Linked DNA regions of Homo sapiens: region 2 is linked to region 1. Evidence: fine-mapped expression QTL. Tissue or cell type: thyroid. Region 1 holds a variant in brackets; the other region holds the start of a gene. All regions are shown on one strand. Distances are between the middles of the regions.

Region 1 (2,704 bases):
CAAGTCCCAGGTGTCCTGGCTGCTCTCCTGGGCGGGGTGGGATTTTTGCATAAGCACTTTGCTGCCCTCCAGTGGCTGCTTGAGGAAACGCAGGGCCTGGTTTGGGAGAGTCACCGAGGGCCCATGTGGCTGGAGGTTGGGGGCAGGATCTGGCCCGAGCTCTCCTCAGACCTCCCCAGACCTGTCTTCTCATCAGCCACCGCTGTTTTCTTTTGCCGAACGATGGTTGCATCTCTCGGACACAGTGTACCCCCTCCCAAGCCCTCCCTGAGCCGTTCTCCTGAGTCCCTGAGGGCAGACACAGCTCCAGGGACCCAGGCCAGCTGCCACACCCCCGACACTCCTGCTGTCCACTGGCCTTAGCTCCTGCAAGTTCCCCAGTGTCCGCACCTGTTCCCTTCCCTGACCTCACCTTCCTGGGGTCTGTGACTGACTGGAGATAAAAATAAAAGCAATTGTGACACCTGAGTTGTTTCCCTCGTCTGCCGTGTGCTGGTTGCCTCAGATGGTCGTGGAGTCTGTGTGGGTCAAACCCGGACCTGTGTGAGAGCCTTCTCACCAGAGCTGCTGAGTTTGAAGTAAATCTCCATGTTTATTTTCATGTGGACAGGGTTAAATTGGTTCTCCTGCTCAATAAACCCTTTACGGAGGCTCTCAGGATCCCGGAGTTAGAAGCAATCCCAGAGTCTCCTCCGGAACAGGGGCTCACCCCTTTCTGTGGAAGCCTGTCCGTTTGTGGGCCGTTCTGGTAGAAGGGTCTTTCTTATTTTGAGCCAAAATCTGCTTCCTAAAAGGTACACAGAAGGAAGGAATGCCTGGGTTGCATCTGGACAGATTGTCCAGAGCGGCAGCTTTAAAACCACAGAACCTTGGCTGGGCTCAGTGGCTCACGCCTGTAATCCCAGCACTTTAGGAGGCCGAGGTGGGTAGATCACCTGAGGTCAGGAGTTCGAGACCAGCCTGGCCAACATGGTGAAACCCTGTCTCTACTAAAAACACAAAAATTAGCTGGGCGTAGTGGCGCACACCTGTAATC[C/T]CAGCTACTCAAGAGACTGAGACGAGAATCGCTTGAACCCAGGAGGCGGAGGTTGCAGTGAGCCAAGCTTACACCACTTCACTCCAGCCTGGGCGACAGAGCAAGACTCCGTCTTAAAAAAAACAAAACAAAACAACAACCCTACAGAACCAAAGCTCCTTGAAGGCAGAGTTATGACGCACGGTCTCAGTAAACAACTTACTAGCGAATGGAGGAATGCATAGGTGAATGTGTCTACTCCAACCCTCTTATTTTACCTGAGAGGAAACTAAGGAGCAGAGGGTGCAGCGATTTGTCCAAGTTTACGCACAAATTAACGACTGGAAGTGGGGTCAGGAGGCGCATGGGTTAATGATCACCCCACAAGCTCCTGTGGGGAATGTGGGGCCAGGGCGCTGTGTGGGAGGGGAGGGAACGCCATCACACTGGAGCCATGGGGGACGTTATCCTTGTCTCTGACAAGGTTAGGACACAAATTCAGCTGGAGTAGGGAAAGTGGCTGGGGCAAGAGTTAGAGGACTCTGAGGAGAGAAAAGTGACTTTTATTAAGCGCTCACTGCATACAAAGCACTTCCACAGATTGTGAGAGATAGGACAGGGAGAAGATACCAACGGTGGTGCAAGAGAGAAACCAGGCACTGTGGCTCGAGACCGTGCAGCCGTGGGTCCTGAGAAGATGCAGCCCCACCGGGGAAGCAGTGCTGAGCCGTGTCGCCGGGGAAAGGGAAGATCCCTGGATCAGGGCTCAAAGTGTGCAAAATGTTGAGGGGCAGGGGCTGGTGTGATGGAAGGGATGAATGGTCTAGGTTGGGGTACACGCTGGGCCCCCTTGCCACCCCCTGCCTCCAGATCCCTTCTGCCTCACCACCCATTCTTACCTGGACTGCCTGTTAGCTTTCCTAGGACTGCCATACAAATTGCCACAAACTGGGTGGCTCAAAACAACAGTGATTCATTTCACCACAGCTGTGGAGGCTGGAAGCCTGAAGCCAAGGTGTCAGCAGGGTGGGTTCCTGCTGGAGGCTCTGAGGGAGGGCCTGTGGCAAGCACTTTCCAAGCCTCTGGCAGCTGCAGGTGATCCGCAGTGTTGCTTGGCAATGGCGCCTCCAGTCTCTGCCTCCATCTTCATATGGCCTTCTCCTCTGTGTCTCTGTGTCTTGAAGCTCCCTCTCCGTCCTCCTAGAAGGATACCTGTCTCTGGATTTAAGGCTTACAATAAATCTAGGATGATCTCATCTCAAGATCTTTATTTGGAAAAAGATCCTATTTCCAAAAAAGGTCACATTCACAGGTACAGGGGTTTAGAACTTGGACATATCTCTCTTGAGGGGGCCCCTATTCAACCCTTTACACCATTCATTCTCTTCTGGCTGCTACTGCCCCGTGGTGGCCTCTGTACGCATCCCCCACCCATGGGACAGTCTTCACATACAGTACCCAGCCCCCAGTGAGACTGGAGAAATCCCAGAGCTGAGCAACCTCATCCAGCTCACTTATACCATCTGTCTTTACTCAAGTCTGGCTACTCCCAGCAAACCTGTTTGCCCTCACAGATTTTGTGTGTGTGCCTGCACACACACACATGCACATGCGTGTGTGCGCACACACACACACCACGGATGGCTAAGATGCTTTCTTCCCAGCTTCTCATCCTCCACTCCCCTCCAC
Region 2 (2,500 bases), 96 kb before region 1:
TCAGGCCTGTGGCCAAAGGGCAGAGCGTCAGGGTAGCTTTTCCTGGACACGGGCCTATCAATGGCTCTGCCCAACCCCCAGCCCCCATAAGCTGGCATTTACCCTCCATCCTGTGGGCAGCTGCCCGGTTTGCCTGCCTCACACCCCATCCCGGCCTCCTGCCCGTGCCTGGCCCCATGCCAGTGCCAGCCTTAAACCCGTCTCTCCAGTGCGGCTGACTCACAGCTTGACAATGGCCAAGCAAATCCTCCTCTGTGTTTGATTAATGAACCCAGTTTGCATGGGGTTGGGGGCTGACTCTGGGGCTGCAGGAGGTGGGAGGGAGGCAGGGGTGCGGGGTTGAGGGGAGGAGCACAGGTTGGGGAAAGAGGGAACCAATACTCAACAGAAACTGCTCTGCACTGGCCCCACATTAGGGGGTTCCTATCTACGGTTTCTAAATGTGAGCCCCTTGACACCTGCTGTGGCAGACACAACCATCCCCATGGAGGCGCTGAGAACAATGAAGCACAGACAGGCCAGGGTCACCCAAAGCCGTGATGACAGCCCGCTTTTCTCTGGTGGTTCTACTCAACCGCTCCACTGAGGTGATGGGAGAGGTGAGGGGCCCAGGAGGAAGGTGGAGCTCAAAGGTGAGACAGGAGGAGGCAGAAGTTTCTGGCAGGAGAGGAGGGGTAGCAGGCATTGGAGAGAGACCAGGGTGGGCCAGCATGAGGGGAGGGGGAGAGGAGGTGGGCAGGAAGGGAGCACATATCAGCCTGGAGAGTTGCCTTCCTGGCCTTGGGAGGCTCTTGCCTTCCTGGTGAAGGGTGTGGGCTGGCCCACTCTGCGGCACCCCTTTTTTCCAGGTGGGGTAAGAGGCCTGGTCCTGAGCCCACCCCAGGGTCGAGGCTCCCACCCCCCCCCCAGGGCACTCACCGCGTTGACGGCCAGATTGCCCCGGGCATTGAGCGGTGCCACACCGTAGAGGATGCCAGCCCCGGCAATGGCGCCCACCAGCTGGGCCGCCACGTAGAAGAAAGCCCGGAGCAGCGAGATCTGGTTGCCCACCAAGAGGGCCAGGGTGATGGCGGGGTTGATGTGGCCGCCGCTCACGGGTCCCAGGGCCTGGGCCAGCGTGCCTATGGCCAGGCCAAACGCCAGCGCGATCTGCAGGATGGTAGGCAGCGCCGACGGCCACTTGAGGGCCGAGCCCAGGCCAAAGAAGACGAAGATGAGGGTGGCCAAGAACTCTGCGAACACGGCCTTGAGGAAGGCCACGGAGCACACCTCCTTCTTCATGGTGGCCGCGGGGGCCCGGCGGCAGCTGCCGCGGCGGGGGGCGCCCGTTGGGTCGCAGGCGGCGGAGGAGGTGGATGCGGCGGGGGCGGGGGCCTGGCTGCGGGGCGCCGCGCACTGTCCCGCGCCCACTCCGAGGCTGGCGGCCTGGCGCGGGCCCTGCTGGGGCGCGCTATATAGGGGGCGGGCGGCCGGGCGCGGGGCCGGCGCGGGGGGGCAGGGGGCGGCTCCTACGCTCGGGGGCCAGCGCGGCGCGCGGGTTGGGAGGCTCCAGGCCGCTGCGGGCCCGCCGCTCTCCGTCGTCCAGCGCAACCCCGGCGCGACCCCCGCCCCCCGGCCGGGGCAGCCGCCGGCCCGTCCGGGCCACGTGACCCAGGCGGCGGTGTAGACCGGCCCAGCGTCCCGGGCCCTGCGCATGATGCGCCCAGGTTGGCTCCCGCGCTCTCCTCGGTGCCGTGCGCCCCGGACTCCCTGGGAGACGGGGCTCGGTCCCGGCGCTTCACTCCGACCTCGGGGCGTCTAGCTCCGCCGGCCTTTACCGCGCTCCGTGCGCGGCCTTCCCCTTTTCTTCTCTTCGGGCTTTTGGTCCAGCTCCTCCTTTTCCTCCTGCGACCGGAGCATCCTGACCCGCCTCACCCCCGGCTGGGTCGGAGTGATGCTCGTCCCGCAGGTCGGCGCCGCTCACCTCCCTCACCGCCGGCGGCGGGGGCGGGCGGCCGGGCTGGGTCCTGCAGGGCGGTCCGGCCGTCCGACGTGGGCCGCTCCCGGCCTGGGCCGGGCGAGCTTCTGGGCTTGGAAGGCTGGCGTTTTGGGAAAAGTGGGCACCGTGCCAGCCTGCCCCGACGCTTCGCAATCCTCGACGCCCGGTAGCTGGGCAGTACCTGGACTAGGCAACGGATCCCCGGAGGCGCCCTCTCCCAGGCCGGGGTTCCCCTTGTCGACGGGACGGGACGGGGGTGTGACGTGAGGCCTTGAGACTCTGGGAGTTGGAGTGGGGGAGCAGGGGGGGTAGAGACGCACCACTGACCTCCCAAGCGCGGTCTTGGCGTCTTCCCTCTTCCTGCTAGAAGCCCCTCACCCTGGATCTAAGACTCTCCTTCTCTTCCTCCACCTCCCCTAAGTCTCCTTCAAACCCTCACTTGGTCTTGATCTCTCTCCCCTCGAAATCTGTTTCTGTCAGTCAGTCTTTGCAAAACCCTATTTCTCTTTTTGTCTCTGTCTT

The links. PIP is the estimated chance that this variant, and not a neighbour inherited with it, causes the effect.
Region 2: AQP5 starts here. The variant in region 1 is fine-mapped to the expression of AQP5 in thyroid (GTEx, PIP above 0.99).

The regions. Positions count from the first base shown.
Region 1 is chr12:49,864,660-49,867,363 of GRCh38, reverse strand. FAIM2 (Fas apoptotic inhibitory molecule 2) reads left to right here. Exons shown (of 12, transcript NM_012306.4): 12 at 1-468. Among named protein-coding and RNA genes, the nearest start is that of BCDIN3D, 23 kb to the right of the region's middle. The variant C/T (reference allele first, on the strand shown) is at 1,037.
Region 2 is chr12:49,960,799-49,963,298 of GRCh38, reverse strand. It overlaps AQP5 (aquaporin 5), which reads right to left and starts at 1,427. Exons shown (of 4, transcript NM_001651.4): 1 at 919-1,427. The coding sequence starts at 1,281. AQP5-AS1 (AQP5 and AQP2 antisense RNA 2) reads left to right here and starts at 516. Exons shown (of 3, transcript NR_110591.1): 1 at 516-632.